Homo sapiens: one gene and its partners. The protein of the gene in region 1 interacts with the protein of each later gene in a pairwise test. Each region holds a gene or a part of one and is shown in the gene's direction. Other genes may lie near its edges. The genes, in order: CDR2, PSMA1 and KANSL1.

Region 1 (3,655 bases):
TGAATATGGCCTGTCAAAGAATAAAGGCTACAGTGTGAATAAAAGGGTATCCTTTCCCCAGTTTTGCTAAGTTATATGTTAACTCCTAAACTTTTAACAGATTTTAAAACTTGTTCATTTCTCAAAAATGTATTATCTGCTCTTTGCCAGGTATTCGCCTGGGCCCTGGGGCCACAGCACCTCCCCACATGAGTGGATAGGTAGGATTCCTACTCCCATAGAGTGAATGTTCCAGGAATCTGTTCACTAGAGAAGCCTGGAGGTGCCGCCTCATGGGATGTGCCCACTACAGCGCCTCGTACATTGTAGGCCCTCAGTAGACACTTGCTGCTGAATTAAGTTTGGGAGCAGGTCTGTCCTGTTAAACAGATTATTCAGCAAGTCTAGTGGGATTTTATGTGCAGGCATCTGTCCGTTTTTTAACATCCTCATTATTATTACTGAGCAAGGCTTATTTGGAGAGAACTGCTTAAAACTTTTTTTTTTTTTTTGAGGTGGAGTCTCGCTCTGTCCCCAGGCTGGAGTGCAGTGGCACGCTCTTGGCTCACTGCAATCTCCGCCTCCCGCGTTCAAGCCATTTTCCTGCCTCAGCCTCCCAAGTAGCTGGGATTACAGACACGTGCCACCACACCCAGCTAATTTTTGTATTTTTAGTAGAGACGGGGTTTCCCCATGTTAGCCAGGATGGTCTCAATCTCCTGACCTCGTGATTTACCCGCCTCGGCCTCCCAAAGTGCTGGGATTACAGGCGTGAACCACCGCACCTGGCTGGAAAACAACTTTTAATGATCCTGTTCTCAGTATCTTACAACTATAGAATGTTTTCCTTTAGCAGTAGTAAGCCATGCTCTGAATAGATTGAATCTTTGTATCAAAGTTTCCTAGGGTATCCGTTTTTAAATTGAAATTGCTGGAAATTTCTAACCTCAGTAAACTCTGGTCTACTATTCATACCTTGTTAGAAACATGTAAAGCTTTTGTGTAGGCAGGAGGAGAAAACCCTTTGCTGTTACAAAACTCTTTGATGAAGAGACTGTCTTTTGTCAGAGAGCTGAGTTGGCTCAGTAGGAATACTGACAATAATCTCTGTGGGTAAGATCTTTTCTGGGACAGCAGGAGCCTTCAGTGCAGGTAATGATGGTGCTTGCTTTGAAACATGCCCCTGAGAACAAGGTGGAAAGACTTCAGAGACTGGATTTTCTTTTAAACCAGCTGCTATTGTCATTTGGTGAGCTGTGCAAACTTAGAATAAGGATTCAGGTTTCTGTTATGTGGATCAGTAAATGAACTCTTAGTTTAAAGGAATCCTAAAATTGCAGGATGAGTACATCCTCCTTGTGTACAACTATTTTGCTGAATCACTGTTTGGAGGGTTATTAAAACTGACAACATCATTTTTCTTGATATTTATATTCAGGTTTTCTGCTTTCCCAATTATAGTAACATTGGCAACAGGAGTTAAACAGAAGCATCACTAAATGACGCATTTGACTTTGTAATAGGAAAAACTTTCAGCCTTACTGTTAGTGAATTACTCCTACAGACTACAGCTGCCAGTACTAATTTTTTGCCTAAAGCATAGAGCTGAGTATCTGTTTAAAGCTAACAGTTTACACCATTAAAAATATATTATTACCTGCAAAGACTCATTAGTGAAAGAATATTCAACATATGAAGGTATTGATATGTTGAAATTCTCAAGCCTGCAATAAATCTACAGTATTTTTAGTAGTTGCCTAAACCAGGCCAGTTCAATAGGATTTAGAGAAGACCCTCTTAATGAAAATTCATTTTGTAATCCTGTAGAGATGAACAGGTGTATAAGGCTTCGAAACTATATTATTTCCTTTTCTTTTGTGCCTTAATTAAAACTATAAGGGACATTCAATATTCTATTCCCTCCACTAATTATTTAGAAAACTTTCTTGGGCTTACTGCCAGCTTTTGGCCTCTTTTGGTTATGGAAGCCAGCTGCTACTCAACAGGAAATGAACTTTTTTTAAAGACAAAGTCCGGTGTCTTTAAGCTAACAGATGAAGTAATATCCTGTTATACAGTGTGACTTCACAGGAGCTTTCTTGTAGTTGGGACTTGTTAAAATTCTATCCTTAACAGCCTATAAATATTTAGGAGATCGAGACTTCAGGTTTCTGAGCCAGGCTGGTGCTTTGTTTTACTGGAAATAAGGTTTGAGATAAGGACAAGTCTCAAATTCTTTTTTGTTTGCTATCTACTAAAGAGTGCTGTCCTTGGTATCTCTTTCTGCAGGAGCAGGGAAGAGGTTCCTGGCTACTCTTAAGTAGCACAGGTAGTTCCATAACTGAATGAAAGTGGTGATAGTCTCAAGACAGTCTGGATTCTGGGAGAGGTTTCAGCCCAGTTGGGTTTTGTTTTTTTTCTTTTTTTTTTTTTTCCTGCTAAGAGACAAGGTCTTGCTATGTTGCCCATGCTGGTCTCGAACTCTTGGCCTCAAACAGTCCTCCTGCCTTGGCGTCCCAAAGTGCTGAGATTACAGGTGTGAGCCACCACACCCGGTCCTTGGCTCAGGCTTTGATTGCTGGTTAAGAGCATCTTTGGTGAATCTGAGCCTTCCCAGTGAGGAATTACCACTTCACACATTTAAGAAGGAAAGACTTAAGTAATACCTAGGTAATGTTTTTATACTTTGTCTTTAATACAGTGTGGTAGCTTCCATATGGGTCTATGTATACACATTACACACTCTGTGAGTACAAAATCATTTTTTCTGGAACATGTTGAGCCATACATAGTTCCTTTTTCATTTGGTGAAAACAGGGTATTAACTTGCCTGGGGTTGTATGTGCTTTCACTAGCAGAGCAGGCAATAAAAACCCAAATAGTTGAACTCTAATTTCTCATTGCAATCTGTGAAAACAAGTAGAAGAAATTAAGTACCTCAACAAGGGGAACATTTGTATTCTCTACCTTAAAGAAGCCTGCGGACCTCTCTTTCAATTGCCTTAAAACTCTGCAGATGAAGATAACAAAGAATCGTGATGAGAGTGAGAGTGAGAACCTGTTGACCTAAGAGTTTCTGTTTGATCTGTGACTCACCTTGGAGCTTGATTAGGTCAATTAACAGTTTTGTGCTTCAGGCTGTCTCATCTGAGAAACTGGACTAAATACCTTTAAAGATATAAAGACTAATGTCTCTAGAAAACAAAAAGTAGGCTGGGGGCAGTGGCTCATGCCTATAATCCCCAGCACTTGGGGAGGCCGCGGTGGGCGGATCACTTGAGGTCAGGATTTCGAGACCAGCCTGGCCAGCATAGTGAAACCCCATCTCTACTAACAATACAAAAATTAGCCAGGTGTGGTGGTGGGTGCCTGTAATCCCAGCTACTCAGGAGGCTGAGGCAGGAGAATCACTTGAATCCAGGAGGCAGAGGTTGCAGTGAGCCGAGATCGCACCACTGCCCTCCAGCCTGGGTGACAAGAGTGAGAGACTCCATCTCAAAAAAAATAAATAAATAATGACAAGAAAAAGACTAATGTCTCTTAAATGCTTTGAGCTATTTGTAAAAGTTCTGTGTTTTGTAAATACAAGTTATTTCATAGATTTAATGGAAGTCTTTATTTTTTATTTTTTTATTTTTGAGACAGGGCCTCACTGTATTTTTGGTAGAGATGTAAT
Region 2 (3,655 bases), on another chromosome or scaffold:
GACCCAGATACCAACACAACGATATGGCCGGAGACCATATGGTGTTGGTCTCCTTATTGCTGGTTATGATGTAAGTTCATTGAATATTGTTATATGTTAATGATTTTTTTTAATTAACTAGAAATTTTTATAATTTTTAGTTCAACCAAAGTAAATAATTATGTGGTGTATTTATTTCTATTTGTAGGATATGGGCCCTCACATTTTCCAAACCTGTCCATCTGCTAACTATTTTGACTGCAGAGCCATGTCCATTGGAGCCCGTTCCCAATCAGCTCGTACTTACTTGGAGAGACATATGTCTGAATTTATGGAGTGTAAGTGACAGCCTTGCTTTTTTTTTTTTTTTTTTTTGCCTTTTCCAGTCTATATAGTAAATAAACATAGTATCCTAAATGCATAAAACTGTAAGTCTTATAGAAAGAATTTTTTTAAAAAAAATTATGCCCATGAAGAGTTTATTGTTTCTGTCACATATACTAATCTTAACTTCTGGTTACCACAGTAGTTTCAAGCACGAGTAGAACTTTTTCAAAATATAAATGTGTTCCCAACCTTGAAAATTCTTGATTCATTTGGTCAGAAGTGTGCCCTGTGGAGTGGAGAGTGGAGAACCACTGTACTACCTGCCAGTTGTAAGCTCTGTTCACTTTTAGTTTTCTGTGAGTCTTTTGTTATTTTAAGCCACACAGACATTTCTGCATTAGTAGTCCATAAACAAGAAATAAAAAGGCAGTGTAGTTGAGGGAGAAGAAGGTAAAAGAGGTAAGATGTTATGACAGGACAGGTTTTCAAGTGCTTTGCTTTGCATTGGAAGGAGGGTATCGGGTTTTACATTTCTCTTTGTCATCTTATCTGTTTTCTGGTGACAAAGCATTCTTTGGAGGAAATATTTGGGGTTTAGTGAATGCAGAGAAAAATAGTTTAATTGACATTACTCAAAGCAAACTTGTGGGATGACAATAGGTTTAACTTTGGGAAAAGAGGATTCCTTGGACAAATAAGCTTGGTAAATGCTGGCTTAAAGTTTAACATTGTAAATTATGGTAAATGGTTTGGGGTCCCCAAGGTTACCCCTAAATTTGGAGATATGCTAGGACTTAAAGCGCACAGCATATAGTTGTACTCCCAGGTAAGACTTTTAACAATAAAATAACAGTACATAGGTGGATCATTAAGGAAAAATACAGTCCAGAGGAATCTATGTGCAGGCTTCCTTATGCTCTTTCCTTCCCATAAGGAGTCACAGAGTACACTTGCAGCAATATGTATGTGATGTTTCTGCCCAGAGAAGCTCATTAGAAACTCAGTGTCCAAAGTTTGGTTCAGAACTGCTCATATCAGCACCCTCTGCCTAGCACATTTCAACCTGGATAGGAAATTCCTAAAGATTGCAATAAATCTATAGATAATTTTGGGGAGTACTGCTACTTTGATGATACAAAGCATCTGATCCATGAACATGGAATATCTTCATTTATTTAGGTATTTAATTCTTTTTTTTTTTTTCCTGAGACGGGGTTTCACTGTTTTTGCCCAGGCTGGAGTGCAATGGCGCGATCTCGGCTTATTGCAACCTCTGCCTCCCAGGTTCAAGCAATTCTCCTGCCTCAGCCTCCTGAGTAGCTGGGATTGCAGGCATGCGCCACCACGCCTGGCTAATTTTGTATTTTTAGTAGAGACGGGGTTTCTCCATGTTGGTCAGGCTGGTCTCAAACTCCCGACCTCAGGCGATCCGCCCAACTGGGCCTCCCAAAGTGCTGGGATTACAGGCGTGAGCCACCACACCCAACCAGGTATTTAATTCTTTCACTGATGTTTTGTAGTTTTCAGTGTACAAATCATATTTGTCTTAAAGTATTTTATTATTTTTGGTGCTGTTGTGAACAGAATTGTTTTCTTAATTTCATTGCATATTATTCATTGCAACTATATAGAAATACAGTTGATTTTTATATATCAATCTTATATCCTGCAATCTTGCTGAACTTGTTTATTAGTTCTAGTCATTTTTTTATAGATTCCTAAGATCATGTTGTCTGGGAATAGAGATAGTTTTACTTTCTCCTTTCTAACTGCCGTGGCTGGAACCTCTGGTACAATGATGAATATAAGTTGCATGAACAAACCTTCTTTTTTTTGTTCCTAAACTTAAGGGAAAAGGTTTTAGTCATTCACTGCTAAGATTGATGTTACCTGTCAGCTTTTTGTAGATGCCCTCTATCAGACTGAAGAGGTTCCTTTCAATTACTAGTTTGTTTTGTGTTTTTATTATGCAAACATTTTAGGTTTTATCACGTGCTTTTTATGCATCTCTTGGGGTGGTTATGCAGGTTTTCTCCCTTCCTTCAGTGTAACTGAAAATTACACTGACTTTCAGTTGTTAAACTAACTTATTCTTGGGATAAATCTCACTTGTATATGGTATATAATTTTTTTAATGTGTTGCCAGGTTCCGTTTGTAGTTTTTGTTGAGGGTTTTGTTTTGTTTTGTTTTGTTTTTGCATCTATATTGGGTCTGTAGTTTTATTTTCTTGTGATGTTTTTATTCTTGTTATCGGTAATACTGGCCACATAGAATAAGTTGGAGATTCCTTTTTACAATGAGCAAATATAAGGACTAGGATTCTACAGAACACATTCTACAAAACTTGGAGTTGTATAATTTATAGTCGGGATTTTGATTTGACCTAGCAAAAGAGAAGATCAAAATCGTAACAAAAATCATGAGTCCTCTCATTAAATAAAATAAGAATCAGCAATGTCATAGAATGCTATTAAAAGATTATATGACTAGCATTAAACTTGGCTGTTTTTACTGTGATAAATTTAGTGTGTAACTAAAAACCACAATTTGAGACTGTAGATTTGATAAATAACAGAAGCCTAGCATAACAATGAAATTAAGAAATAATTGTTAATTTATTACATATAGGTAATTTAAATGAACTAGTTAAACATGGTCTGCGTGCCTTAAGAGAGACGCTTCCTGCAGAACAGGACCTGACTACAAAGGTAAGTATTGTCTTTTCCAATTGTAGATATTAACGTTACAGTTTAAACCTTTATTGCATAAATGTAATGGAGTATATATGCAACATTCTGTAATTTGGGATATGATTGTCTTGGCAGATTCTTTTCCTTTAAGCTATTTGCTAAGTAATCCAATTTTATTTTTTAAACATTTCTTTTTGGTACAAAGCAGTAAAACCAGTAAATTTCATGCAAAATGTCCTTCATTATTTTCAGCAGATTGGCATATCTTGGTATTATTTAGTTAACAAAAATATATATATATTGAGCACCTACCATGTGCAGGCACTTTCTAAGCATTGAAAATACAGTAAACACAACAAATAACTTTTTCTTCATGGAACGTACATCCTAGTAGGGAAAGATAGACAGTATATACATAAGTACATTATATAGTATATTAGAAGAAGATAAATGCTATGTAAAAAATAAAAAAGCGTTAAAAGGAGAAAGAATGACCAATTGGATGTAGGTAGGTGTAATTTAAAATAGGTGGTTGAGGATATTCTCACCAAGAAAATGAAATTTGAGGAAAAGATATAAAGGAGGTAAGTGAGTATGAGCTATGCAGATCTAGAGCAAAATTATTCTAGGAAATACAAATGCAAAGGCCCTAGTATTT
Region 3 (3,655 bases), on another chromosome or scaffold:
GGCCAGGTGTTTGGACTAACCTGTAGCATTTTATGTTTCTTGCAGATGTTCCCACAAGCCTGCATTTCCAGAGCATGCTGAAATCTCAGTGGCAGAACAAGCCTTTTGACAAAATCAAACCTCCCAAAAAGTTATCGCTTAAGCACAGAGCACCCATGCCGGGCAGTCTGCCAGATTCAGCTCGTAAGGACAGGCACAAATTGGTCAGCTCCTTCCTAACAACAGCCAGTAAGTGTCAGGGAGCCGGGAAGTCCCCCAGAGTATCAGTGACTTTTCATTCCTTTTATATTCTCAAATTTGTAGTTTGCATGCATGTTGGGGTTGGGAGAGGCAGTTGACCGATAAAAAATTCAGCTCACAGTGACTGCTTCTGCTTGTCTTGGATGCTCTCAGATGGACTTCGGGAGCTATTCTAGACACCATGGATCTTGGAGCAAGACCCAAAATGCTCAGTGAACAGCCAGCAATGGCATGGCATTGAGTTCATCTACGGGCAGGTGTCTTCTGTATCCTGGTGACATGTTTCTCTGGTTCTGGGCTCCCTGTGCCTATCCTAGCCATTGTGCAAATTACTAGAAACTTCAGTCCTGAAGGACTGTCCTGCTGCCCTGGGTATACGGCGTTGGCCTAGAGAGAACTCGAGAGCTTGGAACTCGAATAAGAAAATATTTGAGAGGACATATTTCACAGCTCTTTTTCTGTTCCCCTCTTCAGAGCTGTCCCATCACCAAACCCGGCCTGACAGGACCCACAGGCAGCACTTAGACGATGTGGGGGCCGTGCCCATGGTGGAGCGAGTGACAGCGCCAAAAGCAGAGCGCTTGCTCAACCCACCACCACCCGTGCATGACCCAAACCACAGCAAAATGAGATTGCGAGACCATTCATCTGAGAGAAGTGAAGGTAGGGCCAGGCCCATGGCACCTCTACCTGCAACTGCACCTGCTCAGGGCTTTCTGGGGCAGCCTAGGCTTCTCTTAATTACCCCCAGCTTTGTCCTTCACTTTCTAGGAAAGCAGAGTAGAGGGACGCTACTGCTTCTAAATGGAGGTCACTTCTTAACTGCTACAGCAACCTCTGCCCTGCCCCTACTTCCCACAGCTAGTGTGCTTCACCTTTTTATCCTCTAGGCATAGAAAACATTTTTGCCTTTAGTATGTATTGCTGCCATTCCAAGCTTGTGTTAGAAGTAACGCTGGTTAAGATAGCCATGTATTTCTCTCTTTTCTGTTGACTTCTGCAGTGTTGAAGCATCACACAGACATGAGCAGTTCGAGCTACTTGGCAGCCACCCACCATCCTCCACACAGTCCCTTGGTGCGACAGCTCTCCACCTCCTCAGATTCCCCTGCACCCGCCAGCTCTAGCTCACAGGTTACAGCCAGCACATCGGTAAGTACCTGTGTGGGGTTGGCCGGACACCCCCTCTGCAGGTCACAGCTCACTCAAGTGGCTCCAGAGGACAGTGTGAGGGTGGGTTATAAAGCCCAGGGCATTTATAGGATCTCAGCTCATCATGACATATGTATGTATGTCTGTACCATTTTTAAGTCAAAGTCATGGTACTTGACCTTCTGTTGTTTTTCTTGAGTTGTTTTTCATAGCAGAGATGGATTTATGCTGAGCCATCCATAGAAAGCTTGATGCAGGGACAAACTCTTAAGGTGATCTGTGACTATTCAAGATCTGTTGGACTAAGTTTCACACAGGACTCAACAGTTCCGTGGCCCTAATCCTGTTGGCCCAAGAAGTGAACAAGAGAGGAGGGGTGGGTAGAGGGGAGATTCCCATGGGCGTTGGAAGCAGTGTTTGATTTCCTTGGTTTTACTCTCTGGGTGAGTGGAGGTGAAGTACTAAGAATAAACACTAGGCGTGAGGGTACCAGAAGAGAAGGGAAGGGAGAAGGCAGAGTCCATGCTTTTTAGGTATACAGAGCAGAATTACAGATCCAGCAGGCCCCCATGGCAGGACATTTGGCATGCACACACCAGATTTTACGATACCACACTCCATCTGGAAGCAGTTTGCACAGCTATTCCAGACACATTTCCTTTAATTTCATTCTAATATTTTAATTCCTCAAGTGTGCCCTCTTGGAACATACATACCTGTAGCTGCTATGGACCTACTCAAAGGGTCCTTTTTGTATAATAATTACAATGTAATGTAATGGTAAATGTAAAAGTCTGCAACTGTAATGTTTATTGAACACTTACTACATACCAGTGATCAGTGATTTACATGTGTTACATGTTATAATGCCTTTTGAGATGTAGGTTGGTACTGTGGATTTCATTTTATATGCATGAAAACTGTCAAGGCAACTTGTGAGGGTTATAATTATGATTCAAACTCAGGCAGCCTGACTGTAGAGCCAGCTCTTTTACCATTACACTACACAGGCTAAGCCTGGGTGAGGGTATTGCAGAGGCAACTTAGGAAGTTCCTTCAGAGCCTAGATCAGGAAACTTCCAAGCTCATAAAATGGACTCACTAGGCTCCTGTGATCAGGTAGGAATTCACATTGTTCTCTCTTTGCTGTTACAAATCAATCTTTTCCAAATGGTCTCTTTGCTCTTCGACTTTCTTTACCCCCGTAACCCACAAATTTTATCTAAATAGGTGTGTAGTGTCCCTCACATACTCAGTTATCCAGCAGCAAAGGGTTTCAGATAACCAAAGTATTTATAAAAAAGAGTCTAAACTAATTCTGATAGAAAATCTGAACTCAGAGATTCAGGACTTGGTGAGCACTTCAATATTTCTGTGTCTGGAGAATGTTAACTTAGGCCTGGATCACTTGAAATTTTTACCATTTATTGAGTAAAAATTTTGTGTATAGCACTATGCTAACCCCTGAGGCTCTCTCATTGCCAAGTTTTTTCAAAGACTCTGGATTTATGTAAAAGAAGATAGGCCAGGCACAGTGGCGCTCACCTATAATCCCAGCACTTGGGGAGGCGGCTGAGGCGGGTGGATCACTTGAGGTCAGGAGTTCGAGACCATCCTGGCCAATAAGGTGAAACCCTATCCCTACTAAAAATACAAAAATTAACTGGGCGTGGTGGCATGTGCCTATAGTTCCAGCTACTCTGAGGCAGGAGAATCACTTGAACTGGGAAGCGGAGGTTCCAGTGAGCGGAGATCAAGCCATTGCACTCAAGCCTGGGCGTCGCAGCAAGACTTCGTCTCAAAAAAAAAAAAAGAAAGAAGATAGGCCAGATAACAGCAGGCTCTCAGTATCTGCAGTATCTGCAGTGGGGATTGGTTCCAGGACCTCCCATAGATAGCAAAAGCTATTGTTGCTCATGTCCCTAATATAAAATGGCATAGTATTTGCATATAACCTATGTGTATGCTTTAAATCCCATATACTTTAAATCATCTCCAGATTACTGATAATACCTAATGCAATGTAAATGCTATAAAAATAGTATGCTGTATTGTTTAGAGAATAATGAAAAGAAAAATCTGTACCTTTTCAGTACAGACACAATTTTTTTCCCCCAAATATTTTCAATCCACAATTGGTTGAACCCATGGATACAAAGGGCCAGCTCTCCTTGAAATCAAGTAAAGAAGCCAGAGGACACTGGAGAAAGGTAGGGAGGAGAGCGAGTGTTTTTGTCAGTGCTTCCCAAAAGCCAGTAGCTGC

The links.
Region 2: the proteins of CDR2 (region 1) and PSMA1 interact in binary tests that used the Homo sapiens proteins (3 or more experiments, as listed by UniProt).
Region 3: the proteins of CDR2 (region 1) and KANSL1 interact in binary tests that used the Homo sapiens proteins (3 or more experiments, as listed by UniProt).

Annotation. Positions count from the first base shown.
Region 1 is NC_000016.10:22,368,046-22,371,700, reverse strand, and holds part of CDR2 (cerebellar degeneration-related protein 2), read left to right. Parts: intron 1-3,655.
Region 2 is NC_000011.10:14,510,232-14,513,886, reverse strand, and holds part of PSMA1 (proteasome subunit alpha type-1), read left to right. Parts: coding exon 1-70; intron 71-187; coding exon 188-317; intron 318-2,935; coding exon 2,936-3,015; intron 3,016-3,655. UniProt on the Homo sapiens protein: Component of the 20S core proteasome complex involved in the proteolytic degradation of most intracellular proteins. This complex plays numerous essential roles within the cell by associating with different regulatory particles.
Region 3 is NC_000017.11:46,036,275-46,039,929, reverse strand, and holds part of KANSL1 (KAT8 regulatory NSL complex subunit 1), read left to right. Parts: intron 1-45; coding exon 46-228; intron 229-714; coding exon 715-903; intron 904-1,243; coding exon 1,244-1,392; intron 1,393-3,655. UniProt on the Homo sapiens protein: Non-catalytic component of the NSL histone acetyltransferase complex, a multiprotein complex that mediates histone H4 acetylation at 'Lys-5'- and 'Lys-8' (H4K5ac and H4K8ac) at transcription start sites and promotes transcription initiation.